Regions from separate parts of the Homo sapiens genome. Here all the other regions are linked to region 1. Evidence: fine-mapped expression QTL. A gene starts in region 1. Each other region holds a variant in brackets. All regions are shown on one strand. Distances are between the middles of the regions.

Evidence for each region. PIP is the estimated chance that this variant, and not a neighbour inherited with it, causes the effect.
Region 2: its variant is fine-mapped to the expression of PIN4 in whole blood (TOPMed, PIP above 0.99).
Region 3: its variant is fine-mapped to the expression of PIN4 in lung (TOPMed, PIP 0.97).

The regions. Positions count from the first base shown.
Region 1 is chrX:72,176,778-72,184,959 of GRCh38, reverse strand. It overlaps PIN4 (peptidylprolyl cis/trans isomerase, NIMA-interacting 4), which reads right to left and starts at 3,203. Exons shown (of 4, transcript NM_006223.4): 1 at 3,132-3,203. The coding sequence starts at 3,174. RefSeq lists an enhancer at 2,944-3,163.
Region 2 is chrX:72,326,161-72,334,342 of GRCh38, reverse strand. HDAC8 (histone deacetylase 8) reads left to right here. Exons shown (of 11, transcript NM_018486.3): 11 at 4,267-4,827. The coding sequence ends at 4,289. Among named protein-coding and RNA genes, the nearest start is that of CITED1, 24 kb to the right of the region's middle. The variant A/G (reference allele first, on the strand shown) is at 4,225.
Region 3 is chrX:72,244,972-72,253,153 of GRCh38, reverse strand. It overlaps a transcript of PIN4 not described here. Among named protein-coding and RNA genes, the nearest start is that of ERCC6L, 10 kb to the right of the region's middle. The variant C/T (reference allele first, on the strand shown) is at 4,367.

The DNA.
Region 1 (8,182 bases):
CCTGTTAGCCAGGATGGTCTCGATCTCCTGACCTCGTGATCTGCGAGCCTCGGCCTCCCAAAGTGCTGGGATTACAGGCGTGAGCCACCGCGCCTGGCCGCCATTGAAAAGTTTTAAGCAAGAGTCTCCATCTTGCTTGTCTTAGTATCTCCAAGCCTAGCACAATGCCTGGCACACAAAAGGTGTTTTAATAAATGTTTGATTAAACTGAAAACCCCAAATACTGACTACCAAAACCCTAAAAAAATGTTACTGCCAAAGGAGTGTTATTAAATCAAACTCCTAACTGGGTTTGCTATAGATCCATTCTTGAATGATGATGCCTTCCAGTTATCCCATCCTCTTCCCTGCTGGATGCTGTCATCTTCTGACTGCCACCTCACTGCCTTTGATTTCCTGACGACTCTGGCATCAGCTTTGGGCTTCCTCTCCACCCTCACTCCTGCCATTACCTTGAGTGACCTCACCATCTATCTTGGGGAATCTCAGTTCTAGGTCTCTTTCCCGAATGTCATGCTCTCTACTCCAAGCTACCTGCCCCGGGGGCACACGATGGAACTGTGCCACTCAGAACTAGTTCAGTCTCTGGCTATAACCTCCTGTTCTTCCAGCTTCCTCATGTCTCATTCCCACAATACTTGCTCTTTAACTTCACAGAACCTCTCCCTTGACCCCAGTCCCTTCGTCCTGCTACATTCACCTAGGCCACCAGACTTCTTTTTCCCTTCCCACTCTGGACCCCATGTTCCTTCATCTGAACTGCATTCCCACTGGCCCTTGTAATTCCCTGGTGTTGCTATCCTCCTATCATAACTGCCTAACAAAACCTCAACCATGGCTTAAGGCTGCACCTAGCTCTTTTCAATCCTATATTGTGCCAATTGCATAGTACTAGGTAAATCAGACTGTGAAGATTATGTAGTCTACAAATTCATGGCCTTTGATCTTAGTCAGGCTCCTAGCCCTGAAGGCACTTCTTTTGTGTTTCATTCCCTCTTCCATTACGATATTCCAGACCTTTACCACTCTCCTCAAGATGCCTACTGAGTCCCTGCCCCTCCATCTCCTTTCCTATGACCTCAAGCATAAGGTGTCCCTGCTCCCCCTAGGTCCTGGATTCCATTTTCTCCTAAATCTCACTCTTCTGTACCTTTACCTCTTTTACTTTACTGGATCCTTCAGCTTCACTCCCAAGTTTTCCCCATTCCAAAGAAGCAAAGAAAATAAAACTTTCTCTTAATCCTCTGTCCTTCTCTATCTACCATCCCATTTCCATGCTTTTCAATTAAAACTTTCCAAGAAGTCCAAATTACCACTTCCCAGTCAGTTCTCTAGTCACGGTAATCTGGCTTCTGTTTCACTGAAACCACTTTTACCCAAGGCCACCTCTAATTTCCAAATCTGCTGTTCTTGATAGACTATACCCTCTCTCTTTAAAACATTCTGGTCTCTCCAGCCTCTGGCCACCATTCTGCACTCCCTCTATCTGTCTGCCTCTTTCTCTGCCTGTCCTAGGATCACATCCTCTGCTCTCTGCTCTTTTCATTCTATAAACTCTCCATGGATAATTGCATACACTCTAATGGGCTCAACTACCATCTATAAGTTAGCGACTCCTAAAACTTACATGTACAGTCTAGACCTCTCCCTCAAACTTTAGACTCAAATATCCAACCACTTCCTGACTACATCTCCACTGAGATGTCCCACAGACACCTCAAAGCCAATCTATCTGAAAGTGAATTCATCAATCTCATCCCCGCTCCTCATGTATCCTTGATGTTACCCTGCAGGACCAGCAACAGGTTAGAAATCCAATCCAGAAAACAGAATGATCGTTGATCCTCCCTCACCACCCCTCCCCAACCCAATAAATCACCAAGTCTTGACTATTTCACATCCTAATATTTACAGAATCTTTTCTCTTTTCTCAGTTCCCACAGCCACTCCCTTAGGTCAGTCCACCATCATCTCTCACCAAGACTACCACAACAATCTCCTTACAGGTCTTTCTGATCCTTAACTGTCCTTCTTAGCAGAATATATAGCACTCTCCATGATCTCGTCTTTGTTTCTGTTTTCATTCTCACCACTTGCCATTCTGCCTTGAGTTTTTGCTCCAGCAACACTACGCTGCACACATCATGCTGTTTCTCACCTCAGTGCTTTTGCTGCTGGACCCCAAGTAAGGAATGCTTTAACCTACCCTCAATGCACATCTTGACCTGCCTAATTCATCTCCAGGAAGTCTTCCGTTCCCTGTTCCCCAGCTAAATGAAGGACTTCCCTCAATTTCTATTATATCCCATACACATCCCTCAACACTACATTTAGTACAGTGCTTTATGATCACTAAGCCTTTATCTTCCTCACTACTTCGGGAGCTCCTTAAGGCCAAAATCTCTTTTTTTTTTTTGAGACAGAGGCTCGCTCTGTCGCCCAGGCTGGAGTGCAGTGGCGCGATCTCGGTTCATTGCAACCTCTGCCTCCCGAGTTCAAGCGATTCTCCTGCCTCAGCCTCCCGAGTAGCTGGGATTACGGGCGCGCACCACCACCACGCCTGGCGAATTTTTGTATTTTTAGTAGAGACGGGGTTTCGCCATGTTGGCCAAGCTGGTCTCGAACTCCTGACCTCGTGATCCATCCTCCCTCGGCCTCCCAAAGTGCTGGGATTATAGGCGTGAGCCACCGCGCCCAGCCTTCTGTCTTATTTGTGTATCCTCAGCGCTTAGCACTCTGCCTGACACATTTCTGTTCAATGGATGAATGATTCCTTCCCCGATGGTGGGCATGTCATTCTGTAAGCATTAAAGTGAACTTTAAGGACCATAACCAATGTGTACTTCCTATTGCTGGCTTTTGATAAGACCCAATTTTAGAGCTCTAATAACCCCTTGAAATAGCAGCCCTAAGTCATCGCCTCCGAGGAACTATCCCCATCAGATTCCATTACCCACTAGGACGGTCCCTGAACCGTAGCCCAATGTATTCCTACAGATGTAATCGATGGCAGCACTGTGGGGCCACTGGCTACCTGCTGCGTCCGTCCCGGACTCCGGAGATGGACTGTCTGTTCCCTCCCTTCGCTCCTCACCCGCCCCCATTCTCCTTGATCGCTCTGGCCGCTCTACCTTTCCCCGCTTTTCCAGAACCACTTTTTCCTTTGGGCGGCATCTTGGAAGCTTGTTGTTGAACGCTGAACCGCTCCAGTTGCCGTACAAGCCCCTTTAGAAGCCCCGCCATGGGCATGTCCTAAACAAATGCCTGAAAGCCGCATCTCAATTGACCGTTCTTATTGCGGCTCCGGAAGCAGGCACAGCTTGGGGCAGACCCCGTCCTTTGGCTCTTGGACCAATGGGGCTGAAGATGTCTGACCAATAAGACGCTTGGGCCGAAACAAAGGCAGAGGGGCGGAGACAAAGGCCGGATTAGGGCGGGAAGCCTGGCCTCTGCGCTTTTTGTGACTTCTTTCACGCACCCTAATTTGCACCAGATCCCCCACTCCCCACACTCTACGCCCGAAGCTCCCCCGTTCCCCTCAACCTGGCTTTTTTCACGCGTGCGCAGTAGGAGCCACGGGGGTGGGTGGCTCTGCAGTCCCTCGGCGCCAGCTCTGGCCAATCCCGCGGGGCCGCCAGACAAAGGGAAGCAGGAGTACTGTGGTGGCGGCCAACTTCCGCTGTCTCCTCCTACACACAGGGCTGCCCTCCCTGGCAGTTTTTCGTTTGTTAATTTTATTCTGCAGTTGTAGCTAATTAGGTTCAAAAGGTAGTTTTTAAAAAAGCCTGTCACCTTTTTGCGTCTTGCAGAGCTCAGTCATGGAGAAACATTGGAAGCAGTCTGAGTGCTCCTCAGTCGGGTACTGCTTAAATAATGTTTTAGCCACACAAGAAGATATTATACAACATTCAAAATAACGATTGTAAGGCTGTGTGTACAGATAGGGGAAATGTTTTTAAGACCAAGATAAAGAATATGATTCCTTGTAAAAGAAGTATATGTAATGTATTGTATGTTATATGAATATAAAGGAGAGGAAAGCTATAGAGCAAGATGTGGCCAGTGGTGCTAGTGCATACAGGTCATCGTGTTTGTTTCTGTGTATTTTCCAAAATTTCCATAATGGTGCAGCATAGTGTAGTAAAAGCATGGATTCTGGAGCCAGATTGCCCAGTTTCAAATCCCTGCTCCACATCTGTCTACTAGCTCCATGACCTTGAGGAAGTTACTTCACCTCTCTTTGGCTCAGTTTCATCATCTGTGAAATGGAGTTGATGATAATAGTACCTACTATTATCCTATCAGGTGTTAAGAGAATTAAACAAGTTCATATCTGTAAAGCACATAAAATGATGGCTTGCTCATATTAATAATGTTTGCCTAAGATAAATGATTTTTGAATTTGTGCCCACACACTTTTTCTCCCCTTACAATCCCTCCCACCATCAATAATTTGTATATGATATGTCAGGGCGTTTCCTCCAGTCCATGAGAGAGCTGTCCTAGCTTGCCACTACCAGCCAGAATATAGAGGTCTTCCAGCTCAGAGTTTAGTTTTTGGATGCAGCCTTGCTGGACCTGGAGATGCTTCATGCTCATACCAGGGAATCAGGTGTTTCTGAGACTGTGCTCATTCCCTACTCAAGACATAACATGGAGCCCTCTTATGTTTGGCTGCTTTAAATTCTGGACACATTTTGGGCACTCCTTGTTTTCGGATTGGGAGTGATCAACTGCGGAGGACACATCTAGTGGTGAGGGGATCATTGCTCTGCCACTTCTGAAGTGGATCCCGCACCTGTACTAATTCTCCAAGTTCGGCTGCGAGATGGAGGGGCGGGGGAGTTGGGATTGGGTGTTGACGATGACAGCGTAGCCTTGTGTTCATCAGGTTATCTATGGCCAAGAGGCCCAAGAGGAACATTTACTTTTGATTTTTCTTTCTTTTTTTTTTTTTTTTATTTTTTATTTTTTATTTTTTTTTTTTATTGATCATTCTTGGGTGTTTCTCGCAGAGGGGGATTTGGCAGGGTCATAGGACAATAGTGGAGGGAAGGTCAGCAGATAAACAAGTGAACAAAGGTCTCTGGTTTTCCTAGGCAGAGGACCCTGCGGCCTTCCGCAGTGTTTGTGTCCCTGGGTACTTAAGATTAGGGAGTGGTGATGACTCTTAACGAGCATGCTGCCTTCAAGCATCTGTTTAACAAAGCACATCTTGCACCGCCCTTAATCCATTTAACCCTGAGTGGACACAGCACATGTTTCAGAGAGCACAGGGTTGGGGATAAGGTCACAGATCAACAGGATCCCAAGGCAGAAGAATTTTTCTTAGTACAGAACAAAATGAAAAGTCTCCCATGTCTACTTCTATCCACACAGACCCGGCAACCATCTGATTTCTCAATTTTTTCCCCACCCTTCCCGCCTTTCTATTCCACAAAACCGCCATTGTCATCATGGCCCATCCCCAATGAGCCGCTGGGCACATCTCCCATACGGGGTCGTGGCCGGGCAGAGGGGCTCCTCACTTCCCAGTAGGGGCGGCCGGGCAGAAGCGCCCCTCACCTCCCGGATGGGGCGGCTGGCCGGGCGGGGGGCTGACCCCCCCACCATCCTCCCGGACGGGGCGGCTGGCCAGGCAGAGGGGCTCCTCACTTCCCAGTAGGGGCGGCCGGGCAGAGGCGCCCCTCACCTCCCGGACGGGGCGGCCGGCCGGGCGGGGGGCTGACCCCCCCACCTCCCTCCCGGACAGGGCGGCTGGCCGACCCCCCCCCCGCCTCCCTCCCGGACGGGGCGGCTGGCCGGGCAGAGGGGCTCCTCACTTCCCAGTAGGGGCGGCTGGGCAGAGGCGCCCCTCACCTCCCGGACGGGGCGGCTGGCCAGGCGGGGGGCTGATCCCCCCACCTCCCTCCCGGACGGGGCGGCTGGCCGGGCGGGGGGCTGACCCCCCCCACCTCCCTCCCGGACGGGGCGGCTGGCCAGGTGGGGGGCTGACCCCCCACCTCCCTCCCGGATGGGGCGGCTGGCCAGGCGGGGGGCTGACCCCCCCACCTCCCTCCCGGACGGGGCGGCTGGCCGGGCGGGGGGCTGATCCCCCCACCTCCCTCCCGGACTGGGCGGCTGGCCGGGCGGGGGGCTGACCCCCCCCACCTCCCTCCCGGACGGGGTGGCTGCCGGGCGGAGACGCTCCTCACTTCCCAGACGGGGTGGCTGCCAGACGGAGGGGCTCCTCACTTCTCAGACGGGGCGGTTGCCAGGCAGAGGGTTTCCTCACTTCTCAGACGGGGCGGCCGGGCAGAGACGCTCTTCACCTCCCAGACAGGGTTGCGGCCAGCAGAGGCGCTCCTCACATCCCAGACAGGGCGGCGGGGCAGAGGTGCTCCCCACATCTCAGACGATGGGCGGCCGGGCAGAGACGCTCCTCACTTCCTAGATGGGATGGCGGCGGGGAAGAGGCGCTCCTCGCTTCCTAGATGGGATGGCGGCCGGGCAGAGACGCTCCTCACTTTCCAGACTGGGCAGCCAGGCAGAGAGGCTCCTCATATCCCAGACGATGGGTGGCCAAGCAGAGACGCTCCTCACTTCCCAGACGGGGTGGCGGCTGGGCAGAGGCTGCAATCTCGGCACTTTGGGGGGCCAAGGCAGGCGGCTGGGAGGTGGAGGCTGTAGCGAGCCGAGATCACGCCACTGCACTCCAGCCTGGGCACCACTGAGCACTGAGTGAACGAGACTCCGTCCGCAATCCCGGCACCCCGGGAGGCCGAGGCTGGCGGATCACTCGCGGCTAGGAGCTGGAGACCAGCCCGGCCAACACAGCAAAACCCCGTCTCCACCAAAAAAAAAACGAAAACCAGTCAGGCGTGGCGGCGTGCGCCTGCAATCGCAGGCACTCAGCAGGCTGAGGCAGGAGAATCAGGCAGGGAGGCTGCAGTGAGCCGAGATGGCAGCAGCACCGTCCAGCCTTGGCTCGGCATCAGAGGGAGACCCTACTTTTGATTTTTCGTTGGGAAGAGCCTTTCCTGTGACCACTGGCTATGGCAGTTGTGAAGTAGGAATGAAGCAAACTAGAGTTCCGATCCCAATGAACAGCCAATGTCTGTCAATGGCTGATGTGCCTAGCAAATGCTTAGTGCCTGGAACACTGTGAGAGCTCTGTGCATTCCAGCAGATAATAACAGCAACAATGATAATAAGCCTGTGTCCATGGCTGCATTTTTCAAGCAAGACTGAAGGCCAACAGCTCCAAGGGGAAAAGAATGGGCATAGGCCTGCTGGAGGTTTCAAGGTCAGGAGCACTTTAAGACAGATCTCAACTATGCAGTATGATTACAAAAAGATGGGGCAGGTATTAGGATACAATTTTAAGTATTCTGAAATGTGAGTTTAACTTTCATTTTCTTCAGTTTATATTATATTCTATCACTTGACACTTATTTTTTATTCAAGAGAAAAAGACAATAAACGTAATTTGAAAAGCAAATCATAGAAAAGCCAGCTTCTATTCAGGGTTAAGTCTGCACCAGTCTATGGAGGCAGACTGTGGAGGGGTCTGTGGAGCAGAGTGACAAATTAACTGAAGAGAGAGGTCAGGGGGAGAAAAGAGGAGAAAAATTCAGCCTTGAAACTATGGTAACATCTGCTGGAGTGTGCACTGCGACTCAGCCAGCAATGGCTGCCAGTTGTATTTTCTACTAATTACCTCATCAGGTTCATTCTTTTATGCGTTACTTGAGGAAAATCAGGAAGAGAAGCTGGCAGCCCTCTTCCCAGGACAGAGGTTCACAGACCTTGGCCCAGACTCACACACTGCCCCACCTGACCTGCTCCACAGCCAAAGAACCACAGTTTCTTTCCTATTTGGGATCCCAGCAGAGCTTATTCTGCAGGGGAAAGCTTGAAGCAACAAAACACAGAGATCTAGTTGATCCCATTCATAGATGGTCATTGCATAGGCAGCTCTAGGCCCCAGACTCTGGGAACAAGGACAGGAAAAGGTCATGTTTGGAAAATGAAGACAGGAAAAAAATCAGTACATAGTGGATGAAATCAGCCACCTATAAAAATAACTACTCTTCGTGGCAAATGGACATAGGTATTAATATTAAATATATTGCTGATATGACTGATGTGTCTCCGTGAGTCCAGTCCGTGGCCAAATAATTTTCTTTTTTTAAATATTATA
Region 2 (8,182 bases), 150 kb before region 1:
ATGATTCAAAGTAAGAAAATGAAAAAAGGATCAAGAGGGCCCCTTGTGTCTTGCCCCCAGCCTGCTTTACAAACAGTATATTCTTGGCCTCTCTAGGCAGTTGAGTCTGCCCGCTGTGGTCTGAACTTCTTGTCTCCCTAGGCCCCAGCCTGTGCTAGCCTTTAGAATTTTCTCAGGCTGCCACCCACTGCTGGAAAAGCTAGATGTGAGGGGAAAACAATGGGCATTATTTAAGCTTGCATTTTTATTGTTACCCCAATTCAACATTGCTCATCATCAACTTCTTGGTGAAAATTATTTCTGTTGTTTTTCTTAATTGCCTCCAAATTTAACTGGAGAGTGAGGCAGAGCAGCAGAGGAGTACAGCACCCACCTTTCCTCCCTGCGAACATGTCTTGTTGGAATGCTTTGACATGGAATTTTGTTCATCCTTGCATTCAGTCATTCCCCTAGCTCTGGCTATACTTACAGATGGAAGGACTCTCACTTCACACCAGTGTCCCCTGTAGGTTGTCCTCAGCTGAGGCAACAACACAAGCGAAGGTGTGGAAACAGGAAAGCATGGATGGGGCCCATTTACGCTAAGGAGTTGGACTTCATTCATAGGTGGTAGGTCGGGAACTGCTAAAGTCTTTTTTTTTTTTTTTTTTTTGAAATGGTGTCTCGCTCTGTCACCCAGGCTGGAGTGCAATGGCACCATCTCGGCTCACTACAACCTCCACCTCCCAGGTTCAAGCGATTCTCCTGCCTCAGCCTCCCCAGTAGCTGGGGTTACAGGCGCCCACCACCACACCTGGCTAATTTTTTTGTATTTTTAGTAGAGACGAGGTTTCACCATGTTGGTCAGGCTGGTCTCAAACTCCTGACCTCAGGTGATGCATCCACCTCAGCCTCCCAGAGCGCTGGGATTACAGGCATGAGCCACCACGCCCAGCCTGCTGAAGTCTTTTTGAGCAGAGAAGGAATGTGATCACAGCTAGCAATTGTGCAGGGAATAGCTCTAGAAGCAGGAGGACCAGATAAGAGGTTGTCGCAGTGACCTGAGTAACAAGAGATGTGACTAAAGCAGAGACAGTGGAACAGAAAGAAGGGGATAGATTGGAGAGACATCTTGAGGTTAGGCTTCACAACTCATAAGATGTGGAGAAGGCGTGAACTAAGAAATTAAGGATCAAAGATTATCCAGAGATTTTTTTGAGGTTAGGGGGTTGAAATACCAAAAGCATGATCCAAAAAAAGAAAAAAAATTGATAAGGAATTGGAGCTCATCAAAATCAACTTTTGCTTTACAAAAGACCCTGTTAAGGGAATGAAAAGATAAGTTACATACTGAGATAAGATATTTGCAAATCATATATCCCACAACAGATTTGTATCTAAAATATATAAAGGGCTGGGTGCAGTGGCTCACACCTGTAATCCCAGCACTTTGGGAGGCTGAGGCGGGTGGATTATTTGAGGTCAGGAGTTTGAGACCAGCTTGGCCAACATGGTGAGATCCCCTCTCTACTAAAAATACAAAAATTAGTCGAGCATGGTGGCACATGCCTGTAATCCCAGCTACTAGGGAGGCTGAGGTAGGAGAATCGCTTGAACCCAGGAGGCGGAGTTTGCAGTGAGCCGAGATCGCACCACTGCACTCCAGCCTGGGTGACAGAGTGAGACTGTGTCTCAAAAAATAAAAATAAAAAATATATATAAAGAACTTTCCAAACTCAACAGAAAAAAAAAAAAACAATTAGGAAGTAGGCAAAAGACAAGACATGAAAAGGATATACAGTCAGCAAATGAGCACATGAAAAGATGTTCAACATCATTAGCCATTGGGAAAATGCAAATTGAGATCACAATGTGATATCACTATACATCTATCAGAATGGCCAAAATAAAAACCAACACCAGATGCCAGCAAGAATGCTGAGAAACCAGATGACTCAAACATTGCTGGAGGGAAAGTAAAATGGTACCACCAGTCTGGAAAACAGTTTGGCAATTTCTTATAAAGCTAAACATGCTACTACCATACCTCCCAGCAATTATTCTGTTGAGCATTTGTCCCAGAAAAATGAAAACTATGTTCACACAAAAACCTGTATGTGAATGTTCATAGTGGCTTGATTCTATAGCCAAAAACTGGAAATGACTCAGGTGTCCTTCAGCAGATAAGTAGTTAAACAGATTGTGCTACATCCATACTGTGGAGTACTACTCAGCAAAAAGAAGCAACAAACTTGATACACACCACAACTTGGATGGATCTTAAGAGCAGTATGCTGAGTGAAAAAAGCCTATCTATCTCAAAAGTTTATATACTGTATGGTTCCATTTCTATAACATTCTCAAAATGACCAAATTTTAGAGAAGGATAACAGATGAATGGTTGTTGGGACTTAGGGATGGTGAAGGAGGAGGGATGGGAATGACTGTAAAGGAGGTAGAGGAGGGAAATCTTTGTGGTGATAAAATAGTTTCGCATCTTGATTGTGGTTGAGGTTACATGAATCTACACTTGCGATTAAATGGCCTAGAATTATACACTTATACACACACAAATGAGTGCTTGTAAAACTAGTGACATATTAATAAGATCTGTGAATTGTACCAATGTCAATTTCCTGACTTGGATATTGAACAGTAATTATGTAAGATGTTAACATGTGGGGAAACCTGGGGAAGGGTGTGTAGAACCTCTCTGCACTATTTTTTTTTTGCAGCTTCCTGTTATTCTATAATTATTTTAAAAGTAAGAGCTCAGTACAAAAAAGGAATGAACTTCTATTGATACATGCACAAATCTGCATGAACCTCAAAGGCATTATGCTGAGTAAAAAAATAAAATAGCCTATCTTAAAAGGTTACAGACTGTTTGATTGCATTTATATGGCATTCTCAAAAAGACAACACTACAGTGATGGAGAACAGATCAGTGCTTGCTAGGTGTGGGGGAGAAAGGAAGATGTGATTGCAAAAGGATAGCACAAGGAGATTTGAGGGGTTATGGAACTCCTCTCTGTCATGAATCTATACATATGTTTAAAATCAGATCTGCACATGCACAAATGTCAATTTTACTGCAGAATAAAATTTAAAATAAAAGTAGATAGGCAAGGCCGGGCATACCTGTAATCCCAGCACTTTGGGAGGCCGAGTCGGGTGGATCACGAGATCAAGAGATCGAGACCATCCTGGCCAGCATGGTGAAACCCCATCTCTACTAAAAATACAAAAATTAGCTGGGCATGGTGGCACACACCTGTAGTCATAGTTACTCGGGAGGCTGAGGCAGGAGAATTGCTTGAACCCGGGAGATTGCAGTGAGCCGAGACCGCGCCATTGTACGACAGCCTGGGCAACAAGAGCAAAACTCCATCTCAAAAAAAAAAAAAAAAAAAAAAAGATAGGCAAGTAGTTTGTTTCTGACTTGTTTCTTCTTTCCTTCCTTCCTTTCATTCGTCCATTCATTCAGCCATTTACTGAGCACCTACTATGAGTGAGGCACTGTGCAAGACTTTGGAAATCAACCAAAAGTAAGACAGCCAGGCCCTGCCCTCAGGGAGCATTGTTTCTGTTTCAGAGAAGTGGCCAGTAGGGTTTGGAGCCCAGTGTTTCTACTTGGGGAAGTGTGGCAAGGCAAAGACTACGGAGGGACAAAGTGAGCAACTTTTCATTCCTAGAGCCCAGTCCGGTAGGATTTCAAATGATCACTTTTCCCTCAAAGACTCTTAGGCCTGAGATCAGAGGAAAGCCCCCAATCCGTGTTTCACAGGTACTCACAAGAGAAAATGCTAGGAGGGTTGTGCCTTGCTAAGGGAAGGAAGAAAAGTTGGGGGTGGGGAGCATGAGATTTGATGCAGTTAGTAAAGAATGAACTCTGAAAAGTGTTACGAGAGAGAGAGAGAGACTTAAAACAACCATTTGTTTAGCTCATGACTCTATAGATTGGCAATTGAGCTGAGTTCAGCTGGGTGGCTCTTCTGGTTCTGGCTGGATACACCCAGCATCTGCAGTCAGCTGGCTGTCAAAGGCCTCGATCACATGTCCAGTAATTGGCTGGTGGTTGCCTGGGTGACAGGGATCTCTGGGCCATTTGTTTCTCATCATCCAGCAAGCTATTCTGGTCTTGTTCCTTATGGCGAGGTCACAGAGTTCCCAAGAGCAGCAGAGAATAAGCCCCAAAATATAAGTGCTTTTTAAAAAATAGCTCTATTGGGGTATAATTCACAT[A/G]CATTACCTGACTTTGAATTTTGTTTTCTCCCCTGTTTGCAGGGAATCTGAAGCATGTGGTCTAGTTGACAGAAAGAGATCAGGTTTCCAGAGCTGAGGAGTGGTGCCTATAATGAAGACAGCGTGTTTATGCAAGCAGTTTGTGGAATTTGTGACTGCAGGGAAAATTTGAAAGAAATTACTTCCTGAAAATTTCCAAGGGGCATCAAGTGGCAGCTGGCTTCCTGGGGTGAAGAGGCAGGCACCCCAGAGTCCTCAACTGGACCTAGGGGAAGAAGGAGATATCCCACATTTAAAGTTCTTATTTAAAAAAACACACACACACAAATGAAATTTTTAATCTTTGAAAATTATTTTTAAGCGAATTGGGGAGGGGAGTATTTTAATCATCTTAAATGAAACAGATCAGAAGCTGGATGAGAGCAGTCACCAGTTTGTAGGGCAGGAGGCAGCTGACAGGCAGGGTTTGGGCCTCAGGACCATCCAGGTGGAGCCCTGGGAGAGAGGGTACTGATCAGCAGACTGGGAGGTGGGGAGAAGTCCGCTGGTGTTGTTTTAGTGTTATATATCTTTGGTTTTTTTAATAAAATCTTTGAAAACCTACCTCTTTGTCCCGTTGTCTTCATTGTAAAGCGCCACTGACAGCACACACAGTTCTGAACTTTTCTTCTCGCTGAAGTGTCAAGAATAACCCTGTTCCTTCCAATCTCTACTCTGGCCCGGCTTGAGAGTCTGACCTCACTGGGGAACTAGTGTGTCCCTAGCCCAAGTTCTTGGGACAGAAGGCCAAGCTCTGTGTTGCACTGGGGCTGTCCATGGTGGGGTAGGAATACTGGCACTGCAGTCATGGAGAGGGGCTTATTGGCACCCTGGGGAGGAGCTGTCCCTGTCCAGGGAGTGATTTAGGGATGGAAAAGGTGTGTTGGCATGTCAGATCCAAGAGGAGCACTTCCATGGATAGAAAGGATGCTTCCCAGTAGACAATTGGCACATAATGAAAAGGGGAGGAAGTTGTAATGTGTGGTGTTACTGCAACCTCTGGGGAGTTGGCAACATGGAAAAATGGGGATGGGAGATAATGGGAGAGATGAGGAAGAGACAACTAAATGTCATGATATTGTAATTTTATTTACCAAATATTTACAAAGCTCCTTCAACTAACTACTGGGACCGGGACGGCAGACAAGCACACAGCCCCATCCATCCTGGCTGTCTAGGAATTCCCAGACAAGGCAAGGGAGGAGAAAAAGAAGCAGATCCCAACATGTTTCCAGCTCTGTTATCAACATGAGCTCAGAGCTGTGGGAGCACATTTCTACTTTTCAGTATTTTCCAAATTTTCTGTAGTGGGCACATTTTACTTTAATAATAGAAAAAAATAAATACATAAACCCCAAAAAAAAAAAAGAAACAATTGATCCGCGGGGAGTTAGGGGGTAGTTACAGATCAAAGTCAGTTCAAGACACCCACTGAGGAAGACTTTGTGCTCAGGCCCTGGGGCTGTTCTAATTGCCTGGAAGACCGATCAGTGGGGGCGATGGCGGGGAGGGGGATGCGGGGGAGGGGGATGCTTTTTAGATCAGTTGGCTTGAGGGTGGGGCAAATTTGTCCCCACCATAAGCCTGCCTGTCTTACCTTTAGGAAATTGCTGCCGACCCCGCCACCACCCACCCCTTGTGTCTGCAAGGGACCAGCCACAATAACTATAACAACAATGGTAAAGCAAGCATTGGCATATGCCCCATTTTACAGATCATTTTCACTTGTACGTCACTATCCACCCTGCTAGTGGGTATTATCATCCCCACTCTATAGATTAGAAAATTGAGGCTAAGAATGATGAAGTAACATGCCCCTTTTTAAGTGGCAGAGCCAGGAAGAAAAACCCGGCTGGAACTGCAAATTCCCTTACTTTTTCCACTGTCCCACACTAGTGCCACTAGAATATTTTTAAACTGTGACTTTGAAGTAAACAACTTTCTTACTGCTTCCAAAGCCCAAGCTGGACCAAGCCACATGCTGCTTCTGGGCCCTCACCACACAGTAGCATTCATTCGTTTGTGTGCTTTTCAGCAAGTTGCTTGACCTTTCTGGGTCTGTTTCCATACCCATAAAATGGGGTGAATAATTCTTGCACCTCATGGGCTATTGTGAGTGGTTGATGAATTACCAAAGATGGAAGCACTTTGAAAAGCGTGTATTCTGGACAGGAGGGCCTGCCTTGGAAATGGTCCAGGGAAGGCTCACCTCTGAGGAAAACCCAGTGCTTATAGGAAACCCACCAGCCCCCTCTGTCTCCAGGGCACTCACAAGGGCCAAAGAGACCAAGAAAGAAGTGTAGACTATGTCTCCAACTCAAGGGGTAAGAAAATAACCACTTAAAAAGGAATATCGATATTGGATATGCATATATGTGCATAAAACACCTTTGGGAAAATACACAAGGAACTGGGACACCTCAGTTGCCTCTGGGCAAGGGAACCAGATGGCAAGTGGCAGAGTGAGGGCGACCTGCACTCAGTTCCTTTTTGTACCTTTTGATTTTTGAACCATGTGAATGTATTACCTGGTCCCAAAAAAGTTAATACATAACATTTGTTTTTAAGTCAATGGAAAATTCCCACCAGTTTTCCTTTGGGGAGGGTGGATCTGCCTCTGCTGCATTCAATGTTAGCTGTCACAGAGACAGCAGTAGTATATTTCCAATTATATATTTAAAAGACTCTAAGGCAGAAAGACTTCTTTATAAGAAAATCAAATATTGTCATTCAACAAAAAAAAAAGGAAAAAGAGGAAGAGGAGAAGGAAAAGAAGGAGGAAGAGAAAAGCAGAAGAATGAAAGAAAACAACCACGTAAACAAGTGTGTTTTGACATCTCTAAGCCCCTATACAGAAAGCTCCTGCAGCTCCTCCTTCTCTGCATTTGCCAGGGGCAGATCCCCAAACCTCCTGCTCAGTGCTGGGCCCAAAGCTGACCGGTAGTGCCTTGGCATGCAACATAACACACTTCAGCCTCAGACTGCCTGAGTTTAAGCCTCTCCCTTCACTTACTAGCTGTGTGACCTTGGCCAAGTAACTCCCTCTCTCTGAGCCTTAGTCTTATTGTCTATCAAATGGCGACACTTACCTGTACCTACCTCATGGGGGTGGTTGCGAGGGACCAAAGAGATAATGCAGAAAAGCATGTAGTAGAGCGCATGTTATATATTAGTAGTAGACACTGTTCTTGCCCTAAATGTGAACACGCTGTGGGTAAGGAAACTTCCTGGGGTTCCCTGGCTTCAGGAATTAGGGAAATAGTATGCAAATTTGTGTGACTGTACATATGTACATTTTTCTGGGGCACAGAGCCATAGCTATTATCAGAGTCTCAACACTCAAAGGAGTTTTGTGATTACAAAAAGGATGAGATCTACAGACGTAGAGGTAAAGACAGACATAAATAGAGCTGTCTAAGACAGGGGCCCCTCACCTCATGATCTATGCACACGCTAGTCCTGCTTGGAATGCCCCAATCTTCCCTAGACTGGCTCCTTCTCCTCATTCAGTTGTCTGACTCAATTAAATACCCTAGGGCCGGGCCCGGAGGCTCACATCAGTAATCCCAACACTTTGAGAAGCCGAGGTGGGAGGATTGCTTGAGCCCAGGAGTTCCATACCAGCCTGGCCAACATGGCAAAACCCCATCTCTACTAAAAATACAAAAATGAGCTAGGCGTGGTGGCACATGCCTGTAGTACCAACTACTCAGGAGGCTGAGGCAGGAGGATGCCTTGAGCCCTGGAGGTCGAGGCAGCAGTGAGCCATGATTGCACCACTGCACTCCAGCCTGGGCAACAGAGCAAGACCCTGTCTCAAATAATAATAATAATATGGCTGGGTGTGGCGGCTCATGCCTGTAATCCCAACACTTTGGGAGGCAGAGGTTGGCCATTCACCTGAGGTCAGGACTTCGAG
Region 3 (8,182 bases), 68 kb before region 1:
ATGATGTTTCTAATTTCAAGGTTTTTGGTTTGAGCAACTGAGTGGTGCCGTTTGTAGAGCTGGGGAAAACCAGGGCAGGTCAAGTTTGAGGGTGGGTTGGGAACCAATAATTCTCTTTTGGACGTTTTCAGAGTGAAATGTCAGATGTCGAGGGGGACTTGATATAGGAGTCTGGGACTCCAGTGAGAGGTTTGGACCTAAGAAAGACATTTGGGTGTCCTTAATATTCAGTTAAGAGCCCTTGGATTCTTGGTGACTTGCTCAAAGCTAACACAACTATAACAGAAACATGGTAAGATACCTGCTGTTATGAACCATGCGTTGTGTCCCTGCTAAAGGCGTATGTTGAAATTCTAACCCAAAACGGGATGGTATTAGGAGGTGGGGCCTTTGATAGGTGATTAGGTCATGAAGGTGAAGCCCTCATGAATAGGATTAATGTCTTATAAGAAAAGACCTGGAGGGACCGGGCGCGGTGGCTCACGCCTGTAATCCCAGCACTTTGGGAGGCCAAGGCGGGCAGATCACTTGAGGCCAGGAGTTCGAGACCAGCCTGGCCAACATGGTGAAACCCTGTCTCTACTAAAAATACAAAAATTAACTGAGTGTGGTGGCGCGTGCCTGTAATCCCAGTTACTTGGGAGGCTGAGGCTGAGGCAGGAGAATTGCTTCAACCCAGGAGGCAGGGGTTGCAGTGAGCTGAGATTGCACAACTGCACTTCAGCCTGGGTGACAGAGCGAGACTCTGTCTCAAAAAAAAAAGAAAAGAAAAGACCTGGAGGCCAGGCACTAAGTGGCTCATGCCTATGAGAGGATCATTTGAGGCCAGGAGTTCAAGACCAGCCTGAGCAAGATGGCAAGAACCCACCTCTACGAAAAAATAAAAAATAAAAATAGCTAGGCTTGGAGACCAGGAGGTTGAGGCTACAGTGAACCGTGATTGTGCCACTGTATTCCAGCCTGGGTGACAGAGCAAGACCCTGTCTCTCAAAAAAAAATTTTTTTTATTAAAAAGAAAAGACTCCAAGAGCTTGTTTCCTTTTTCTCTCTGTTCTCCCTCAAGTGAGAGTACAACAAGAAGGTGAATGTCTGCAAACCAGGAAGAGGGCCTCACCAGACACTGAATTTGCCTGCACCTTGATCCTGGATTTCCCAGCCTCCAGAACTGAGAAATAAATGTTCGTTTGTTTTTTTTATTTTATTTTTAATTTTTTGGTTTTTTTTAGAGACAGGGTCTCACACTGTCACCCAGGCTGGAGTACATTGGTGCAATCATAGCTCATTGCAGCCCCGAACTCCCGGACTCAAGTGAGTCCACTTCAGCCTCCCACTTCAGCCTCCCAAAGTGCTGAGATTACAGGCATGAGCTTCCTGCACCCAGCCATGTTTGTTGTTTAAACCACTCAGTCTATGGTATTCTGTTATAGCAGCCAGAACTAAAACAGCTGCCTTCTTCCCTACCTCGAAAAAAACACCCCTCTCCTCCACTTGAACGTCTTTATCTGAGTCAGTTAAGACTTACTCTCAGGGAAAATGCAAAATAAAACTACAAGGTACCACTTTTTAATAATCAGAGGGGTGAAGATCAAAAGGTTGGAAAACACTGTTAGCAAAGGTGGGGAAAACACACACTTTCATATATTGTTTATGGGAATGTAAATTCATTTATCCCTTATGTAGGGCAATTTGGCAGTTTCTAGCAAAATAAGAAAGACATATACACTTTGACCCAACAATTCCAATTTTAGGAAATTATTCTACAGATACACTCACACATATTTTTTTTTTTTTGAGACAGAGTCTCGCTGTGTCGCCCAGGCTGGAGTGCAGTGGCACAATCTTGGCTCACTGCAAGCTCCACCTCCCGAGTTCAGGCCATTCTCCTGCCTCAGCCTCCCGAGTAGCTGGGACTACAGGCGCCCGCCACCACGCCCGGGTAATTTTTTTTTTTTGTATTTTTAGTAGAGACGGGGTTTCACTGTGTTAGCCAGGATGGTCTCGATCTCCTGACCTTGTGATCCGCCCGCCTCTGCCTCCCAAAGTGCTGGGATTACAGGCGTGAGCCACCGCACCCGGCCCACTCACACATATTTTTTAAAAAAATGCATGTACCAGGCCGGGCGTGGTGGCTCATGCCTGTAATCCCAGCACTTTGGGAGATGGAGGTGGGAGGATCACCTGTGGTCAGGAGTTCAAGACCAGCCTGGCAACATGACAAAACCCCCATATCTACTAAAAATACAAAAATTAGCCAGGCGTGGTGGTGGGCACCTGTAATTCCAGCTACTTGGGAGGCTGAGGCAGGAGAATTGCTTGAACCCTGGAGGTGGAGGTTGCAGTGAGCCGAGATTGCGGCACTGCACTCCAGCCTGGGTGACAGAGTGAGACTCCCTCTCAAAAAAAAAAAAAAAAAAAAACCATATACCAGAATATTTATTGTCACTATGTTTTTATTTATTTTTATTTTTCGTAGAGACGGGTCTCATTATGTTGCCCAGTGTGGTCTCAAACTCTAGAGCTCAAGCAATCCTCCCACCTCTGCCTCCCAAAGTGCTAGGATTACAGGTGTGAGCTACCATGCCTAGCTCTCACTATGTTTTTAACAGCAAAAGATTGGGAAAAATATCCTTCAATAGAGGACTGATTAAATAAAGTACACCTTTACAATGGAATATGTGCAGCCATCAAATCTAAGGAAGTTCTTGGTCATTTTTTTGTTTTTTGAGATAGGGTCTCACTGTGTTGCCCAGGCTGGTCTTGAACTCCTGGGATCAAGTGATTCTCTCACCTTAGCCACCTGAGTAGCTGGGACTATAGGCACGTACCACCATGCCCGGCTGATTTTTTTTTTAACTTGAAAAATTGAGATGAAATTTACATAACATAAAATTGACCATTTTAACTATTTTAAAGTGTAAAATTCAGTGCCTTTATGTTTTGATATGAAACAACCTTTGAGATATATTGGTATGCACTTACCCTCACTCGCCTTCTATCCCCACTTGCCTACCTCTGCTTGTGATAGTGGGAGAGACTTTTTCTGATGGGCATCTCTGAAAAGTCTCCAGAACACAGGAGGCTGAGAGGGACTGTTGCCAGGGAAAGGTGGTGGTAATGTTATCAGCGGTTCTCACCCCCGGCTGCACATTAGCATCACCTGAGGAGATTTTGAAAATGCCCTTGCCCAGGCCCCACCTTTAGATACTTTGATTTAATTAGGGGTGAGGCCTGGGCATGAGTCTTAAAATTTAGGCATAATTTACCCACAGTAAAATGCATAGGCCTTAAATGTATAGTTCAGTGAATTGTGATATTGTGGGTGCTTGTGTAACCACTGCCCCATTAAAACATAGAACATTTCCATTTCTCCAGTCACTGCCCTTCACCCCTGCCAGAGGCAGACACTGTTCTGATTTCTATCATAGATTCATTTTGATTGTTCTTGAACTTCATAGAAATGGAATCAAGCAGTATGTAACATTCTGAGATTGCCTTATTTCTCTTAGTATAATGCCCTTGAGGTTCATCCTACTGCCCTGAGGATCAGTAGTTCATTTCTTTTTGTGGCTGAGTGGTATTCCCTTGTATGGATACACCAAAGTTTATCCATTCAGGCATCCAGGGACATTTGCATTGGTCCCAGTTTTTGGCTATTAGAAACAAAGCTGCTATCAACATTCTTGTACAAGTCTCTCTGTGAGCACATATACTCATTTCTCTTGGAGTGGAATTCCTGGGTTTAACTTTATTTGAAACTGCTGGTTTCCAAAGTGGTTGTACCAATTTACACCCCCACCAGCAAAAGATGAGACTTACAGTTGTTCCATATCTTTGCTAACACTTGGTATTGTCTGTCTTTTAAATTATAGCCATTCTCATGGGTATGTAGAGGCATGTCCTTTTAGTTTTAAATTGCATTTCCCTAATGGAAAATTATGTTGATCATCTTTTCATGTGCTTACTGACCATTCATATATCCTGTCTCATGAGGTGTCTGTTCCACTCTTTTGCTCATATTTTTGGGTGGTCATTTTATTATTGATTTGTAGGAGCTCTTTATATATTCTGGGTATCAGTCTTTTGTCAGATAAATATATCGCAAACATAATTATTATTTAAGATATCCCCAGTGAGTCTCACATGAATGCAGACTTGAGAACCCCTGGTGAACTAAAGATTGGCCCCAAAGGCCCCCTACTTTTGCAAGTCCTCAAACTTACCCCCTAGCAATTTTGCCTGAGGATTGGTTTTTTTTTTTCTTTTTCTTTTCTTTTTTTGAGATGGAGTCTTGCTCTGTCACCCAGGCTGGAGTGCAGTGGCGCAATCTCAGTTCACTGCAACCTCTGCCTCCTGGGTTCAAGAGATT[C/T]TCCTGACTCAGCCTCTGGAGTAGCTGGAATCACAGGTGTGCACCACCACGCCTGGCTAATTTTTGTATTTTTAGTAGAGACAGGGTTTCACTATGTTGGCCTGGCTGGTCTTGAACTCCTGACCTCAGGTGATCCACCGCCTTGGCCTCCCAAAGTGATGGGATTACAGGCATGAGCCACTGCACCTGGCTGAGGATTGGTTTTTCAATTCATGTGAATGTTCATGGCTGTGGGGGATTTTAGGAGAGAGGGTTTCCTTGTCAGTCTTTCTCCTGCATATCTGCCTGGCTTCTTGGACAGCTCCATTCATCTGAACTGTTCTCTTACACTCTGACTGTGAGAAAGTCTTTTCCTGTCTTCACCCTAAGATTTTCCACATGTAAAACCTGACCTTAGTGCCTGACCCATTTCTACAACCCAGAGACAGTGTGTGTCAAAGGAATAAGGACATTTTTTTTTTTTTTTTTTTTTTTTTTTTTTTTTTTTTTTTTTTTTCTGGATGGAGCAAGCTATGTCCTAGGCGCAAAAGGAGTGTGACTTTCTGTATCCCCTCCTGGCTATTATCCTCAGGCTGCCTATCTGCTCACTGAAGGGAAGAATCATTTTCTAGCAGCCTTGGCAACCAATCACCAGAGGACACTCATTGAACCTGCTGTGTACTTGCTGCATGACCTCGTGCAAGGCAATTAACCTCTCTAATCCTTGGTTCCTTCAACTGGTACAAGAGAACATCTTGTTTGTTGTGGGGAAAGTTCCTGGCATAAATTAGCTGCTCACAAAGGATGGAAGACATGGTTCTAAGATCAGTGGAACTGGGCTGTGAGAAGAGCTCTCTGTTCTGGGACTTGCCATACCCTCAATGTGCCCTAGTGCCATATACCTGCCCCTTCCTTCCACACCTTCAGAGGCCCAGACTGGTCAAGGCCCCTCCTGCTGTGTTGTCTTCACCCTGCCTTTTTTGGCTAATTTGAACAGAACATCCCATGAGGGCCCCTAGGCTCTTTAAGCTCTGAGCAGATGGCTGGGAAGCCAGTTCTCTGAAACAAACAGTTCTTGACTTGGATCTGGGCAAGGGGCCAAGACCTTTGAAGGGCTGTAGAAAAACTTCACCTTTGCCCCCACTTCCCTCCTGTTGCCCTCAAGAGCTTGTAGTTTTTACTACCTGTCTCTTTTAGTGCCAAAGAGGAAGGGAAAAAGGCCACGCCTATTTGGATTAGATGCCCACTTGGAGTCCCTTCTTGGGCTGGCACCAGGGAGAAGCCTTGACCCCAGGTTTTGTGAGAGGCACCCATGCTATGTAGGGAGGGTTTCTCTGCTGCTGCAGAAGGAGGATAAGGAAGCTACAGGAGAGCTCATGGGGAGCTCCCAGAAATGTCCTTGACTTGGGGAACAAGTGGGTACAGGGCATCTGGAGAGTCCAGCGACACTGGGCTCTGGCTGGAGCCTGTTCATCTCACAGCCAAGCATGGGTGGCTTTGTCCTAGCACAAGATCTGGGAAGGGACTAGAAGAGGGCTGTCTAGTTCCTGGGTGTAACTCAGAATCCTCTGTGTTACTTCCAGGTCCATCTGGAGGCAGGTATAAAAGGGAGACAGGGGTAGTATTGGCAAGAGAAGTGGCTGGGATGGGTATGCTTGGCCCTCCCCACTTCCCTGATTTCTGGTCCTCATTATGTCTTTGGATATATCATTCCCACCCAAGGCCTCATTCTAGTTCTCTAACAGAGCACACAGTGCTCTCCTTTAGGATTACTAATTGACAGATCATCCATCCATCCATCCATCCATCCAACAACTATTTACTGGTCAGCCATTATGTGTAGGGACCATTCTGAGCTCTGCGAGGGTATAACTGTGAAAAAGACAGAAATGTTCTTCACAGAGCTCACATGATCACGGGGGAGCCAGACAGGTAACCAGGCAGCTACATTCCATGGAATAAACCCAATGATAAAGGCAGGATGTGGGATCACAGAGGATGACTTGTTGAGAAGGATCAGGGAAGGTTCCTGGAAGCAGGGAGACCTGCACTGAGACAAGAGGAGTGAATAGACAATAGTGAGGTGAAAAGGGTGAGTCCAGGCAGAGGAAACTGCATGTGGGGAGGCCTGGAGGCAAGATCTGAATAGCTGGAAGTTGTTCAGTTTGAGAAGAGATCGTGTGCATGTATGTGTAGGGGTTGTGAAGAAGTAAGACGTGGCCAGAGAGGTAGTCAGAGGCCAGATCAGGAAGGCCTTGTAAGCCATGGTAAGGAGGCAGGACTTGATCTTGAGGGAAACGAGGGGGCTTTGAAGGATTTAGACAGGGCCATGGCATGATCAGTTTGGTATTTTTGAAAGATGATTCTGGTTTTTGGGTAGAGATCAGATAGTGGGGGAAAGGCACAAATAGAAGCAGGAAGACAAGCCAGGAGGCTAGTGCAGTCGTCCAAGTGAGACAGAATGGTGGCATAGACTACCGTGGTGGCAGTGGAGATGGAGAGAAGTGATTGGATTTGGGATGTATTTTAGAGGTAGAGCCAACACGACTCACTGATGAATTGAACTTGAGGGGCAAATATGAGGCAGGCCTCAAAGACACTTCCCGGTTTCTGACTTGGACCACTTTGGGGGTTGGTAGTGCCATTCATGGAGATGGGAAATATTGAGAGAGCAGGTCTAGGGGAGAGAGGGTGAGTTCGGTGCCATGTTGAGTTTGAGCTTCCGGGGTGACATGTCCTATAGCCATTTTGCCATCTAGGTCCAAATCTCAGGAGAGACGATGAGGCTAGAGACAGAATTGTGAGGCCTTGAGAGCCACTGAGGTAACCCAAAGGGAGTGGAGGATGCCATGTTTTGTGCAGTGGGACTGCCTTGTCAAAGGTTTCTCTATCCTTTGGTGCCCACTTCACCCAAACCCCGAAAGGCAGGTTTAGAAGGCTTTCATCAAAGACTGTGAAACTTAGGGCAAAGACCCTGCAGGTAATCCTAACTCTTGGCTCCCTCCCTTCCTCCCAGTCCCTGTCATTTCCACAGCATCCTGGGCTGACTTGATTAGTTTCCAAGAAGGGTTTATCCATCCCAGGGGCCAGGCCAGCTGCCATTCTTAGGAAATTCAGTTTCTGGCTCCCTCTGCTGGCAGAGCTGGAGATGACTGTTGGCTGGGGCAGCCTCCATCCCATGGCTTTCCTCCTCCTTCCTGCTTCCCCTGGGAGATTAAACCCTCAGTCTCAATCTTCTATCCCCTACCCCCAAATCCCACCTACTTTATAAGAACCCTAGCTAGAAATGGGGTGGGAGAAGCCTAATTAGGTATCTGGGAAACACAAATTCTTACTGTTGGCAGAGCTTGGTGGCTCACACCTGTAATCCTAGCACTTTGAGAGGCTGAGGCGGGAGGATCGCTTGAGCCCAGGAGCTGGAGAACAGCCTGGGCAACATAGCAAGACTCTGTCTCTACAAAGTATTAAAAAAATTAGGTGGATGTGGTGGCACATGTCTGTAGTCCTAGCTGCTAAAGAGGCTGAGGTTGGAGAATCGCTGGAGCCTGGAGGATCACTTGAGCTCAGGAGTCTGAGGTTACAGTGAGCCGAGATCACACCACTGCACTCCAGCCTGGGCAACAGAGTGAGACCCTGTCTCATAAATACATTATTACTGTTTCTAATCAATTTCATCTTTTTTCCTGCCCCAAACCCACTCTCGGCTCCTTTTTTTTTTTTTTTTTTTTTTTTTTTTTTTGACAGGATCTCACTCTGTCACTCGGGCTGGAGTACAGTGGTGTGACTCTGCTTACTGCAGCCTCGAACTCCTGGGCTCAAAAGATTCTCCCATCTCAG